Regions from separate parts of the Homo sapiens genome. Here region 2 is linked to region 1. Evidence: fine-mapped expression QTL. Tissue or cell type: whole blood. Region 1 holds a variant in brackets; the other region holds the start of a gene. All regions are shown on one strand. Distances are between the middles of the regions.

The links. PIP is the estimated chance that this variant, and not a neighbour inherited with it, causes the effect.
Region 2: it holds the start of SPEN-AS1, and the variant in region 1 is fine-mapped to the expression of SPEN-AS1 in whole blood (TOPMed, PIP above 0.99).

The regions. Positions count from the first base shown.
Region 1 is chr1:15,920,778-15,928,592 of GRCh38, forward strand. SPEN (spen family transcriptional repressor) reads left to right here. Exons shown (of 15, transcript NM_015001.3): 9 at 93-206; 10 at 1,472-1,572; 11 at 7,314-7,815. Among named protein-coding and RNA genes, the nearest start is that of ZBTB17, 51 kb to the right of the region's middle. The variant T/C (reference allele first, on the strand shown) is at 4,103.
Region 2 is chr1:15,844,504-15,852,318 of GRCh38, forward strand. SPEN-AS1 (SPEN antisense RNA 1) reads right to left here and starts at 3,644. Exons shown (of 2, transcript NR_024279.1): 1 at 3,605-3,644. SPEN (spen family transcriptional repressor) reads left to right here and starts at 3,204. Exons shown (of 15, transcript NM_015001.3): 1 at 3,204-3,647. The coding sequence starts at 3,565. RefSeq lists silencers at 55-124, 2,941-3,510, 3,691-4,110 and enhancers at 355-454, 2,334-2,846, 2,847-3,358, 4,782-5,376, 7,756-7,815.

The DNA of each region.
Region 1 (7,815 bases):
ATCCGTGTCCTTGTGGCTTAGGATTTTGTTGGGACTGACACTAAGTCCAGTGGATGAGGCTCTTACTTGTTTTTTGTTTGTTTGTTTTACAGGTGGTGTTTGACCGCTTAAAAGGCATGGCCCTGGTTCTCTACAATGAAATTGAATATGCACAAGCAGCTGTAAAAGAGACCAAAGGGAGGAAAATCGGTGGGAATAAAATTAAGGTGTGCAGAATGACTTTAAACAGAAGCAAAACAAAGTCCTATTCAAATCTCACCCTCTTGGGCTGGGCGTGGTGGCTCACGCCTGTAATCCCAGCACTTTGGGAGGCCAAGGCAGGTGGATCACCTGAGGTCAGGAGTTCGAGACCAGCCTGATGAACATGGTGAAACCACGTCTCTACTAAAAATACAAGAAAAATTAGCCGGGCTTGGTGGCGCGTGCCTGTTAATCCCAGCTACTTGGGAGGCTGAGGCAGGAGAATTGCTTGAACCCAGGAGGCGGAGGTTGCAGTGTGCTGAGATCATGCCGTTGCACTCCAGCCTGGGTGACAGAGTAAGACTCCATCTCCAAAAAAAAGAAATCACCCCGTTAATAACTAGCATTTTGTAGGCTGCCAGCCAGGGGAGTGGTTTACAAGACACGTATGCTGTATCATTAGTGTTTAAGGGGAATATTACAATTTTATGCTCAGCTACTTGTGGGCACAGCATCTTTAAACCATTAGCCACAGATCCTTCCCTAAAAATCTTCTCATTCAAAGAAGTGTGCTTCTCAGTGTTCGGGTGCTGATGCTCACACAGACACTCTCATCGCAGGCTTGACCACAGTTATGGGTATCTGACACCCAGGGCCTCATAGTATCAGTCCAGCATCCTGAATGATATGTCTTTCTTTCCTTTCCTACTCTCCTGAAGAGTGGGTAGCCACTTAAAGCATAACTTTATGTCCAGTGTATGTTTTTAAAAACTTGTATTCATGGTAGTTTGAAGGAATTTATGCACTTAACTATGAAATAACTATGATTGTTAGGTTGAAAAAAGTATTTTAAAAATAAGATGATAAGCTATTTGATAGCTGATGAGCATCATATGCTTTAGTAACTTTGAGGCCCAGCTGTGAATAAAGTTTAAAATGTTCATCCATATTTTGTTTTATATTCTAACTGTAGTTTTGGCAACAGAGATTGCTGGATTTAGTTGATCTGATTACTTAATTGCCATTTCAGTTTTCCATTTTGCTTTTTTCACTCCTTCACAATTGGGTTTGAAACTTTATAAATTTCATTCTTTTATCACGGTTTATACAGAATTTGAGAGATTTCAGGTTAATATAGTTTCAGTGATGAGGACTGTTTTACTTGAGATACATTGCTGTTTCCTGAAATTTTCTCAGAAGGGCTATGTTGTGAAGAATTTACAAATCTGATAACATTTTTCCATCATTAAAATTTGAAACTTGCATCAAACACCTCTTTTTTTTTTTAAAGGTGGATTTTGCAAATCGGGAAAGTCAGCTGGCTTTTTATCACTGCATGGAGAAATCTGGTCAAGACATCAGAGACTTTTATGAAATGTTAGCCGAAAGAAGGTATGTATTTTAAACTTACCAGTGTAGCTTGAGTTTTAATAGTTTTAATACAGAAACTTAAGATGGCATTAAATTTTATTTTTCACTCTTTACCCCTACTTTCATCTTCTAGAATAGAGAATGCTTCTCTTTTATCACTTCATATGGAAACACAGGTTTATTTTTTTGAATCTAGTTTCCAGGTAATTCCTATGGGTTTGGAGCAACCTGTCTGGATTTCTCACTGAATGCTCCTAGAACTTGAAAGAGTTACTGTTTTGCCAGGTGATAACTTTATGTACTTTTTTTTTTGAGACAGGGTCTCACTCTGTCACCCAGACTGGAGTGCAGTGGCATGATCATGGCTCACTGCAGTCTCTGCCTTATAGGCTCAAGTGATCCTCACACATCATCTTCTTGATTAGCTGGGACTACAGACACTTGCCACCACGCTGGAGTAATTTTTGTAAAGATGGGTTTTCTCCATGTTGTCTAGGCTGGTCTTGAACTCCTGGGCTCAAGCATTCTGCCCGCTTTGGCCTCCCAAAGCGCTGGGATTACAGGTGTGAGCCACCACACCTGGTCTGCTTTATGTACCATTAATCATAAATACAAATCATCTTGCTTACAGTTACTTCTTAAAGTAAATGTATTAATATATGTTAGAGTGCATTATAAACTTTTAAATGGCTACATATTTAGTAATGACAACAACCAGGTTGTATGTGCTCATACATTTAACTTAAAAAATAAATAAATAAATAAAAACTTCCAAAAGAATATCAAGAGCTTTATTTTAAAGTTGAATCTCTTAAATAGTCAAAGTGAATCAATAAGCCAAAGCATATGTAAACTGGCAACTTTGGCAATGTGCAGGGCAAACCTGATTTCCTCTTGTTAATACTTTCAGTCATGGTTATGTAGTATTTAATATTTTTTCTGCTGAACAGACCGAAATATAGTAAAACATCTTAAGATAATGCCACCAGATTCTTCAATAGCTGATTACTTTTGAAAATGGAAATTTGGTCCATATTATCAAGCTGTTTTTCCAGACATACCTCTGATTAAGTTTCCTGGAATGTTCCCACTAGGTCTCCACCCCTATATGTGTTAGACAAAAGGTTTGTGTGAAAAACGCCTTTAGACACTTGAGTTCAAAGTATGAAAAGGGCTCCATGGCAAGATGAGCCAAGTCAGGGTTGTGCTGCCACAAGCCCTGTTGAATGCATTCCCTTTCTACTGCCTCTTCTTGCCAATTCATTTTTGTTTAAATGATAGCAAGTATTAATATATATTAATTTCTTAGTGGAATATTGTACAACAGTCGTTGAATACTTTGTGCTTTTTTTTTTTTTTGAGATGAAGTCTTGCTCTGTGGTCTAGGCTAGAGTGCAGTGATGCGATATTGGCTTACTGCAACCTCTGCCTTGCTGGTTCAAGCGATTCTCCTGCCTCAGCCTCCCGAGTAGCTGGGACTACAGGCGCATGCCACCATGCCCGGCTAATTTTTGTATTTTTAGTAGAGACGGGGTTTCACCATATTGGTCAGGCTGGTCTTGAACTCCTGACCTCGTGATCCGCCCGCCTTGGCCTCTCAAAGTGCTGGGATTACAGGCGTGAGCCACCGCACCCGGCCTACCTGGTGTTTTTAAATGAAAAATGCTCCCTACGGCCAAATTCTCAAAAGCTCAAACTTGTCAGGTTTTGATGGTTTCTCACCAGATCAGAATCCAAATCACAAAGCTTCAAAGATCAATACTCCTTTAGCTAGAAAGTCAGGCTCGATAGACTGTTTTCTCAGTTGTGTGAGTGTAAGAGAGTGAAAGTGAGCGTAAAATTATGTGGCCACATGCAGGAGAATGTGTGTGTCTCATGTCAAGAGAGAAAAAAATTCTCTATCCTGGCTTCCCAAGTAGCAGTTTGAAGTCATTGTTAATACAGTAAATGCTTACAAGGAATTCTTATCTATATGTGAGTGGAAAGTGTCCCGGAGGCCTACTTGCACCTAAAACATACAAAATCCATTAAAATCCTCTGTGTACATTAAATATTTTAAAACAGCAGTTTTGTGTGAGGGTTGAATAATGTAATGTGGGTGTTACTTTTTGTATATTACTACTTAAAATCTATTTTTTTTTTGTTTTTTGAGACAGAGTTTCCCTTTCGTTGCCCAGGCTGGAGTGCAATGGTGCAATCTTGGCTTACCGCAACCTCTGCCTCCTGGGTTCAAGCGATTCTCCTGCCTCGGGCTCCAGAGTAGCTGGAATTACAGGCACGCACCACCAGGCCTGGCTAATTTTGCATTTTTAGTGGAGACAGGGTTTCTCCATGTTGGTCAGGCTGGTCTCAAATTCCTGACCTCAGGTGATCCGCCTGCCTCGGCCTCCCAAAGTGCTGGGATTACAGATGTGAGCCACCACGCTTGGCCAAAAGTCATTGTTTGTTTTAGTGATGAACTAACTGGCTTTGGGTTTGTTCTGTGTTTTTTCTCATGGTTATTTATCCCTCTCAAATGGCAGTTATCTCCTCATGAGGACGCAGGAGGGTG[T/C]GGGACTTCACTGTGACCCAGGTTTGCCCCATGTGGTTTCAGTTGGCAGTGCTTATGGAATGCATTCCTTGCAGTAGACCTTGAGGATCTTTGCCTCTTCCATAGAATGGAAGTTATCTCACTGAATAGTTGATGCATGAATGAAAAAAAATGCTTTAATGCTAATGATAAGCTCAGGAATGCAAATGACAACTCTATTTGCACAGGGCTTTCCCATTTTCCAATAGTATTTCATTTGATCCCTCTAATACTCTGTCAGGTAACCCTTTTTATGGAAGGAACTTTTGCTAATAAGATCACAGGCCACTAAGGGGCTGGGCTGGGGATAAACCTAGGGTTCCTACCTGCTAGTGCATTGAGCTTACCCTTTACCGGAGTGGTTCTCGAGATGAATTTACAGGGTCACATTGTGATTCAGATGACATCTACTTATGGCACTTTGGATACTCTGTGGTTTTGTGAACAGAGTTCTCTCCGAACCTGACTTTCTGCAGTTCCTCAGAGTCCCCGTACATGGTCCAAGTGCCAGTTGTGTTGTCCCTGCTTAAATTGTTGAATTCTTTGAGGGCAGAACTGCTTATTTCTTTTGTTGTCATGGGGCCCAGCAAAATAAGTATTTGTTAAGCTGAACAGTGCTCCAGCATGAATGCTTATACATATATTTCTGCCTTCCAAAACTTTTTTTAATATTACTACTTAATAAATTTTTATTAAATTTTTTTTTTTTTTTGTAGAGATGGGGTCTTGCTGTGTTGATCCTGCCAGTCTTGAACTCCTGGCCTCAAGCAGGCCTCCCAAAGTGCTAGGATTACAAGCCTAAGCTACCATGCCCAGCTCGTATTTTTAGATATAGTTTTAGTTTGCTTAATTAAAAAGATACCTTGATACTGTGTTTTTAAATATGACTCAAGCCTACCATTAATATGGGCAGTAAACTAATGACCATTCTAGGTGTCTTACTCACTTTATAATATTAGAAGGTATATAATGTGTTCACCTTCATGTGGAAAATACATCCTCAAAGTATGTATTTATGGTGGTAATGAGTTAAATTAGCCTAATTCCATGCCTAGTAACAGTTATTTATGAGCTGCCTCGTCACTATTTAGACAAGGAATCTGATTTCCATGGAGCTATGGAAGGATCATCTTGAATCCAATTAAACCAAATATCATAGATACACAATAAAATATTTTCTTTGAACTGAGGAAGTTCAATATAAGTACATATAATAGGCCAGGCACAGTGGCTCATGCCTGTAATCCCAGAACTTTGAGAGACTGAGGCGGGCAGATCACCAGAGGTCAGGAGTTTGAGTTCGGCCTGGCCAACACAGTGAAACCTGTCTCTACTAAAAATACAAAAAAATTGGCCAAGCGTGGTGGCGCATGCCTGTATTCCCAGCTACTTGTGGTGGTGGTGAGGTAGGAGAATCGCTTGAACCCCAGAGGTGGAGAGCAGTGAGCCGAGATTGTGCCACTGCACTCCAGCTCAGATATATACATACACACACACACACACACACACACACACATTTATAAATATATTTACAAAATATACATATTTATAAATATGTATATTTATAAAATAATGTGTTATCGATGCTTCCAGTGTTGGAATGTTCAGTCTAGATGCTTCGTTTGCTGTTCAAAGGAGTTGGAACATCATTTAGTAGCAGCTTTGATATATTTTTCTAAAGTTCATTCTTTCAACAAATAGTTGAGTGCTATGAGCCAAGTGCTGTTGTAAGAGCTAGAGAAATTTTGGCCAAGAAGACAAAGCCTGTGCCTTTATGGGGCTTAAGTTCTAGTGTTCTTTTTTTTTTTTTTTTGAGATGGAGTCTCGCTGTGTCGCCCAAGCTGGAGTGCAGCGGCACAATCTTGACTCACTGCAAGCTCCGCCTCCCAGGTTCATGCCATTCTCCTTCCTCAGCCTCCCGAGTACCTGGGACTACAGGCGCCTGCCACCATGCCCGCCTAATTTTTTCTATTTTTAGTAGAGATGGGGTTTCACCATGTTAGCCAGGATGGTCTTGATCTCCTAACCTCGTGATCCGCCTGCCTTGGCCTCCCAAAGTGCTGGGATTACAGGCATGAGCCACCGTGTCCGGCCAAGTTCTAGTGTTCTTTCAGCGAGCTACTAATGGCAGTGTTACCTAGAATGAGCCAGGTGTATCTACATGAGAGAACAAACATTGCGGAGAATGAATGAGTGAAGGAAGTAATTGGTCTCTGTTACAGGTGTATTTAATTTCATATAATATATGTTCTTGTGTGTAAATTTAATCCTATTTTGAATGCACCAGACAGGTCCCTGTGGGAGAAAACCTGTGGTGAGTTCCTTAAAACTGGAGGAGTTCTCTCATGGTGCTTGCAGTCATCCCTGGTTTGTTAGTTGGCAGCCTGGGGGAAAGTGACAACATTTACTGAGGCCAAGTACCTGCCTAGGATTATGTAGGAAAGTTTTTACAGATATTATCTTAATCTTTTTAACAGCTTTATGAGGAAAAGCTGCCATTTTATGAGTGAGGAGACTGAGTTCAGAGAGTTTAACCAGGTTCCAGTATTTTTTAAAAATTGTGAATTAGATAGAAGTGTTACCAGTATCATACAGGTCATATAGATGGCAAAATTTTAGTTAAAATTTTTATCTGTTTTTCTAAACAGTGGATTTATTTCCCAAGTTGTAAGAATATCTTTTTATAGAATAGTAATTTTGTGGGAGACTTAGGTAGGAGTGTGGGGATATTGTCCAGTAACTAGTGTCTGCTTTGTCACAACGCCGGAGTTACCAGAAACATTAAAAAAGGGTTGAATCACCACTGCCCAATAGAAGCATAATGTAAGTTATATAAATTCTGTATATGTAATTTTAAATTTTCTAGTAGCCACATTAAAAAGACAAAGTGAAATTTTCTTTAATATATCTAAAACGTTGTTTCAACATATAATCAGTCTAAATTGTTGTTTTTCTATAAACTAGGTCTACAAAATTGGCTGTGTATTTTACACATCTCAATTTAGCTAGATTTCAAGTGCCTAGTAGCTACTTGAAGCTATAGTGGATAGCTACTACAAACTAATCATTTCACAAATGATTAAATAATGTCAAAAGATTTTTTAGAAGCAGGAATTTCTGATTTCATATGTATGATTTTATGCATAAGTGATGAGGAAACAAAAGAACTAATATCTTTGTTATTTTTTGGCAGAGAGGAACGAAGGGCATCCTACGACTATAACCAAGATCGTACATATTATGAGAGTGTTCGAACTCCAGGCACTTATCCTGAGGATTCCAGGCGGGACTATCCAGCTCGAGGGAGAGAGTTTTATTCAGAATGGGAAACTTACCAAGGAGACTACTATGAATCACGATACTACGATGATCCTCGGGAATACAGGGATTACAGGAATGATCCTTATGAACAAGATATTAGGGAATATAGTTACAGGCAAAGGGAACGAGAAAGAGAACGTGAAAGATTTGAGTCTGACCGGGACAGAGACCATGAGAGGAGGCCGATTGAACGAAGTCAAAGTCCTGTTCACTTGCGACGTCCACAGAGTCCTGGAGCGTCTCCCTCTCAGGCAGAGAGGTTGCCGAGTGATTCTGAGAGGAGGCTTTACAGCCGATCCTCAGACCGGAGTGGAAGCTGTAGCTCACTCTCCCCTCCAAGATATGAGAAACTGGACAAGTCTCGTTTGGAGCGC
Region 2 (7,815 bases), 76 kb before region 1:
ACTATATCCTGATTTGACTACAGGACCTGGCTATAATGGTGAAAATGGTTTTTTTTTTTTTTTTTTTTTTTTGAGACTGAGTCTCACTCTGTCGCTCAGGCTGGAGTGCAGTGGCACGATCTCGGCTCACTGTAACCTCTGCCTCCCGGGTTCAAGTGATTCTCCTGCCTCAGCCTCTCGAGTAGCTGGGATTACAGGTGAGCACCACCACGCCAGGCTAATTTTTGTATTTTTAGTAGAGGCCAGGTTTCACCACGTTGGCCAGGCTGGTCTTGATCCCCTGGCCTTAGGTGATCCGTCCATCTCAGCCTCCCAAAGTGCTGGGATTATAGGCGTGAGCCACCGCACCCGGCTCTTTTTTTTTTTTTTTTAAAATCATGATTTTAACAGAAGCCTCCATTCAAGGCGAGACATGCCTTTTATTTCTCTAATTGCGAGACACTTTTCTGAATCCTCTTGTCAGTTGCACCTTTTAATACAATTGAGGTGACACTGTTCTTCATGGTGACACTGGTCTTTCCCAAGAGGTTTCAGCTAATTCAGTCTATCAGATTTTACATCAGATTTTAAAATTTGCTTCAAACTTGGGTGCTTGTATTCAAATTCATGCTTCATAGAAAAATGCATATCAGTTCAACAGTTGACTAACTGCAGCCACGTTCACAGTACTGAATAGTTCATGAGTTTCGTTAGTAGGGTGTTAGCTTGACTTTCCTTATGTGATAATTGTGACAGAGAAATGGCCAGATGTAAATAGCCAATTTTACTTTTTTTTTTCTTTTTTTAAGAGAGGGGTTTCTCCTATGTTGCTGAGGCTGGAGTGCTGGGGCTTTTCAAGGCACAATCATAGTGCACTACAGCTTGGAACTCCTGGACTCAGATGATGCTTCTGCCTTAGCCTCTCCAGTAGCTGAGACTACAAAGAAACAATTTAGTTATGCATAGGTGACCTGAGATATTAGTGCCATTGGTTTTGGTGACAATATTTTCGAATTCAAATAGTGTCGTTTGTAAGTTAGTTTGTATTTAAGGAGATAATCGATGAGGCCAAGTATTTAAAATTGGCTGGGCTGGTGGTTCATGCCTGTAATACCAGCACTTTGGAAGGCTGAGGTGGGCAGATCACCAGGTCAAGAGATCGAAACCATCCTGGATAGCATGGTGAAACCCCGCCTCTACTAAACGTAAAAAAATTACCTGGGCGTGGTGGTTTGCGCCTGTAGTCCCAGCTACTTGGGAGGCTGAGGCAGGAGAATTGCTTGAACCCGGGAGACGGAGGATGCAGTAAGCAGAGATGGTACCACTTCACTCCAGCCTGGTGACAGAGTGAGACTGCGTCTCCAAAAAAAAAAAAAAAAAAAAAAAAAAAATCTGGCTTGCACCTGAAGCAGCACACCTCTGGTATTTCTGTGTATTTTTATTATAAATAATTTTATTTTTCTCTCGATATAGTTACCTTAATTTTATGGGTTTTCCTTGAATTTCTGTAAATTGGCCTTTATATAAAAGTTCAACTGGCCGGGCATGGTGGCTCACGCCTGTAATCCCAGCACTTTGGGAGGCCAAGGTGGGCAGATCACCTGAGGTCAGGAGTTCAAGACCAGCCTGGCCAACATGGTGAAACCCCGTCTTTACTAAGAATACAAAAAACTAGCCTGGTGTGGTGGTGCGCGCCTGTAATTCCAGCTACTCGGAAGGCTGACGCAGGAGAATCGCTTGAACCTGGGAGGCGGAGGTTGCAGTGAGCTGAGACAGCGCCATTGTGCCCCAGCTTGGCTAACAAGAGTGAAACTTGGTCTCAGGAAAAAAAAAAAAAAAGAGGCTGGGCGTGGTGGCTCAAGCCTGTAATCCCAGCACTTTGGGAGGCTTGAGGCGGGTGGATTACCTGAGGTTGTGAGTTCGAGGCCAGCTTGACCAACACAGAGAAACTGTCTCTACTAAAAATACAAAAATTAGCCGGGCATGGTGGCGCATGCCTGTAATCCCAGCTACTCAGGAGGCTGAAGCAGGAGAATCGCTTGAACCCAGGAGACAGAGGTTGCAGTAAGCCGAGAACACACCATTGCACTCCAGCCTGGGCAACAAAAGCAAAACTCCGTCTCAAAGGAAAAAAAAAAAAAAAGAAAGTTCAACTGTAGGTTTCAAAAGCTCTTAGGCCTGGAAAGGCCAGAGGTCTAATTCCTTTCTCTGTTTAAATATTAAATTATGGTCTGAGGGGAACAATATTGGATTCCTGTCTCATTTCCGTTTTATTCCTTCTATACCACAGCGATCAGCAAGGGTATCTTGCAAACGGTTTCGCAAGATTCTATATAAAAAAGTTGCTTAGGCCAGGTGCAGTGACTCCCGCCTGTACTCCCAGTACTTTAGGAGGCCGAGGCGGGCGGATCACCTGAGGTCAGGAGTTCAAGACCAGCCTGGCCTACATGGTGAAACCCTGTCTCTAATAAAAATACAAAAATTAGCCAGGTGTGGTTGCGGGTGCTTGTAATCCCAGCTACTTGGGAGGCTGAGGCAGGAGAATCGCTTGAGTCTGGGAGGCGGAGATTGCAGTGAGCCGAGACCGTGCCACTGCACTCCAGCAGCCTGGGCAACAGAGCGAGACCCCGTATTAAAAAAAAAAAAGTTGCTTCATGTTACAAGCCAGTGACTCTTGGATGGGATGCGTTTCTGAAGCCGTCGCTGTTCAGCAGAGCGGTGAGAAGGGCAACCTTTTTCTGATCGCTTTCCCAAGCAGGCAGGAATCTAAGTGTCCGGAAACGCCAGGAGCTGGCCGCCAGGTGAGCGGAGGACGAAGGGGTCCTGACTTCTAGGGGACAGGCCTTGGCAGCCGCTTTGACCCGTAGCCCTGTGGAAACCAATTGCATTTCTCTTCATATCTTCCACCAGGCCGGGGCCTGGGGTTGCCGCTGGAGGGGCTAAAGACCGCTCCTGCTTCCTCAGCCGCCCCTTGCCCGGCGCGGGAACCCGACCGAGAGCCCGCCAAGCAGCGGGACTCCACTAGCAGCTGCGCGCCTGCGCACCGGGGCCGAGCGCGCGAGCGTTCCTTCCCCGCCTGTAGTCCCTCACTTCGTCGCCCGGTCCGCGCGCCTGCGCGCCGGCTGGGAGGAACTCAGCTTCTCCGCCTTGGCAGGCGGGAGGACGCGCGCGCGCCCGCGGCGAGGGGGAGGCAGTGCGGCGGCGGGAGTCGGGCCGCGCGCGCCAGTGGGAAGCGTCCGGCTGCCACAGCGCCAGCTCCGTCGTAGTCGCTGCCGCCCGTGTCCCGCTCGCCCCTCCTCCCGCTCCCCCGCCCGCCCCTGCCCGGGCGCATGCGCTGCCGGAGCGCGAGGGTCGGCTTCGGGTGTGTGGTGGCGGCAGAGCTGAGCTGCGAGGCCCGAGAGTCAGAACCTGGGGGAGAGGGATGGTCTCTGCACGGGGGGGAGCCGGAGGAGCCGCCGCCGCTGCCGACGCCACCGCCGCAGCCGCCGCCGCCGCCGCCCCGGCACCCGCCTCCCGGCGCTGACGGTCTCGTACGAAGCCGGCGAGGGGGAGCCAGCAGCGGCGGTCGCCGGCACGCCGCCCAGCATGGTCCGGGAAACCAGGCATCTCTGGGTGGGCAACTTACCCGAGAACGTGCGGGAAGAGAAGATCATCGAGCATTTCAAACGGTGAGTGACACGAGGCCCGCGGCCGCGCTCGCTCCTCGGGCGCCGCTTCCCGCCCCGGCCCGTTGCCGGCCCCTCCCGGAGCGCGGAGCTGGTGAGGAGGACTCCGGCCCGGACCCACGGGCGCTGTGGGACCTCGTCAGCCGCTCGGCCCGCGTCGCGGCGTTGGGCCTCGGGTGTCGGCGGTGCGGGCGGCCAAGCCGCGCCGCCTTCGAAGAGCCCGCGGGGCCCCGGCGGCCGCGTCCGTGACGAGGGAGGTGACCGAGGCTCGGCCTCCACGCAGCCGGCGCCCCGGGGCTGCCCTCGCGTCAGCCCGGGAGTCGGTGGGAGATGCGCTGGGCGGCGGGGTCGCGTCCTTGCGCGCAGTGCCCGGCCCGGAGCAGCCGGGACCCGAGCCCGCCCGACAGCCGGGTCCGGCGCCGCCACTCCAAGCTGCTCTGCGGGCGCTCGGCAATGTCTGACTTCGGGAGGGTTCCGTGCGAAGGGAAAGGCGGTGCGAAAACAGAAGTCGCAGTAGGTACTGTGGTCGCGTCGCGGACCCGGAGAGACCATCTAGGACCTCTCCGGAGGATTTGCAGCCTTGAAACTCACTGGGAATGGCAAACGTTTCTCGTTTTTGCGGGGCTGGGTGGAGAGTGGTGTGAAATAAGTTGGTGCGCCCGTTTGGGCTTCCTCGTCCCCGGCGGAGGAGACCGCGTCTGACAGGAGGTTGCTAGCCCCGGCGCCCGTAGCCTCGGGTCGCACTCCCAGGCCGCCCTAAGACCCTGGTGCCCCCCACCCCTGAATTCCCGAATCAAACGGTAAAACATTCCAAACCTTTTACGATGAGAAGATGTAGCTTAAAAAAAAAACCTCCCCTGAATATTTTTGTGAATTATAAGAATAAATGTTGTCGTTGATACATCTTATTGAGTAGCGTGTAGTGCGTTTTCTTTGTGAAATGCCTGTGTACCGTAACAGATAGGCCTCCGCATAAAACACTTATTAAAATGACGATTGGCTTGGACTTGGTGCAGATTCAGAGGGACCATAGCAAATCTGTGGTTGTCCTCGAAAATGACAGTTTATTCCGATATTTAAGACCCTGGAAGGTTTTAAGTTTGGCTTTTAATTTCCCTTACTATGTAGTGAGTGAAGGAAATTATGGAGCGTCCTCATTAATGAGTCACCATGGGAAAAATAGATTGCGTCGCTCGCTTTGAGCCGCTTGGATAAGGAAATGGAAGCAGCGGCGGCGGAGCTCCTGTCTTTTAAATGGAGGATCATTGATTGTGTTGGTGGTTGCTGTTACTGGGGCATTAAACCCTCGCCGCTGGAGCGCGCGTCTGCGCGTGTCCGCGTGTGAAAAGGAGCCGGGAATCGTGGGGCCATTCATAACCTGCTTGAGCTGTCCTCGGCAGGCCGGGGGGAGGTGCGCGCTTCCAGGGACTCTCCCGGTGTTTACTACGTCGTGCCTGAGAAACCAGGCGGGGGCGGGGGGAGGCAGGGAGCAAAAATTCACCTCTGTGCCCTAGGATGAAGGGGAGACCACGGGCTGGATTGGGAAGCAGATGGGAACTTTCTCTTCCTGGCGCTGCTCCACCCCTTACCCGCCCCCCACCTCCTGGCTTCTCCTCGAGTATCGTCAGTGTTTTGATGGAAAAATCATTTAGGTGTACATTATTGGAGTGGAAAAACCACTTAGATGTGCTCACTTTAATCCCCTGTGGACTTTCTCTGTAGGTCTCTGCCTGGGAAATTCGTATGCACCGATGTACAAGCACGTGCATTGCAGCATTCGCTCGCTCCTCAGTGTTATGTGCCTAGACGTGTCATTTCTCATTATGCAGATTCCAGAGACATTGCATGCTTATGGCTGGGAGTTTGGCCCCTCTGCAAGATGAGGGGGCAGAGAGAAGAAAGAGGAAATCGTCCCAGGCAGCTTTGGAAGGGTTCTTAGTGGACGGTGCTGCGGTCTGGCTTGTGTGAATGACTTTCTAAAATGGCGGCCAGGACCCACTTTATGTGGGAATCAGCAGAGCCGATCTCAGAATGCACAGAGGGAGGAGGGGGCGGAGGATTCGAGCTGCCTTGGAAAGCGGCAGTCTGGAGGAACATTACTGTATTAAAAACGGCTTAGCTGGCAGTTTGCTCACGACTGCATTCAAAGGAGTATCTTACCTATTGCAGAGTAAAAGCAGATGCTACTGATAAAAGCAGGTTATTTTAAAACTAAGCAGATCATGTGTCCCTGAAATTCTTTTATTTTAAAGGTTTTTTTTTTTCATTTTTAAACAAATCTATTTAGTTGTTTAAATAGACAGTACATTTTTATGGGTTCAAAGCATGTGAAAGGTATACAGAGAAAAATCTCCACCCCTGACCCTGGAATTCCCAGTTGCCACACTTCCTCCCCTCACCCCCCAAAATCCAGGTAATGTCTATTTCTGGTTTCTTGTTTATCTTTCTGCATGTACAAGAAATGTTCCTGCTGATCCAGCTGTGGAGCTAAGTGGACCTTGTTTGGAGGAACTCAAGGCCTTTTATCCCTATTGTGGGATATATTTTGTAAAATGTGTGATTGCTACTAGGAGTAAAAGTGAAATCTGAATAATTTAAGTGAAAGGAATAAAAAGGTAGTTGTACCAGAACGATGGCTCTGCAAGAAAATGAAATGGTATTCACTTCTGGTGTCTTGTACAAATCAGAATGAGAAAAACCATGCAATACCTATATTAAAACTGAACTTTAAGTGCCTACTCTTATCCTTTTCCCTAGCTGATTACATTAATAACTGTTTTACAGGATTAAGAGGTGTACACTGGGAATACATTATATAAAACGTTTTCAAGATGAATGTTCTCTTAACAGTGATTAGGCTTTTGTAGTAAGTGTTTGCATTTTACAAAAAGATTAAACCAGACAGCTTTGGGGACAGCTTAGAGACATTTTAACAGAAAAAAGAGGTCAGTCAGTTCTTTAAAAATTTTTATATTTATTTTTAAATTTACATTCTGATTAGTTTTGTTTGTTTGTTTGTTTTTAAATGGACAGTAGATTGAGGGGTGGATGGCGATTTGGCTTTTTCCTCCCCAGTGCCAAAGAAAGACCAAATCCTTAAAACATAATCAGAACATTTACAAAAATTGGCTTTTCTTTTCTTGCAATAATAATAAATCTGTTGTTATTTTTACAGTTTTCAGTTTGCGGATTTAAAAAAATTAAATGAGAACTATTTCTGAATCGGGTTTTAGTTAACAAAGATTCATTACAGGGACACAATAGAGAAAGTCCTTTCCTTTGTATGTTAGCTGGGTTGAAGGGGGAAGGGAGGAGTTATACAATTGGTTCCTGTCTTTTAGTTATGAGAGGGAGAGAGGTGTCTGCAAAGGCGACTCCTTGAATTAGAATGAGCAAATGAATAAAACCCTTAAAATATTTAACATCTTTATCTTTTCAGATTTTAAGTAAGTTGCGAATTTAGTTCTTCCCATCCATCTCCAGTTTTAGAGACTAGGTTAAAGATTATGCGGAGGTAAACTGAGGTAGCCCCTCGTGTAAAAATATTGTTAAAGAGGCTGGGTGCGGTGGCTCACGCTTATAATCCCAGCACTTTGGGAGGCCGAGGCGGGCGGGTCACGAAGTCAAGAGTTCAAGACCAGCTTGGTGAACATGGTAAAACCCCGTCTCTACTAAAATACAAAAAATTAGCCAGGTGTGGTGGTGTGCATCTGTAGATCCAGCTACTTGGGAGGCTGAGGCAGGGGAATTGCTTGAACCTGGGAGGCGGAGGTTTCAGTGAGCTGAGATCGTGCCACTGCACTCTAGCCTGGGGGACAGAGCAAGACTCCGTCTGGGGAAAAAAAAAGAATGAGACCCATTTAAAAATGTAATTTGTTTTTGCTGATTTAAAATGTTTGATCACAGTGGTTTTCCTGAGTTAAATAGATGGAATAGCTATTACATTTTATGTATATTCAGATATCTTTACCTCTGGGACACAATATAAAATATTGAATTTCCTTTTCCTGACTACTAGGGATATTTTTAGACTTAAACAAATTTGACTCACTGTAGCCTGTATCATTGTTACGTCGCTTCTTCATTTGAGACCAGAAGGTTTCTATGAAACCACTTCTTGTCTATGGCCATACCACCCATACCACCCCCATCCCGTCTATGAAACCACCTC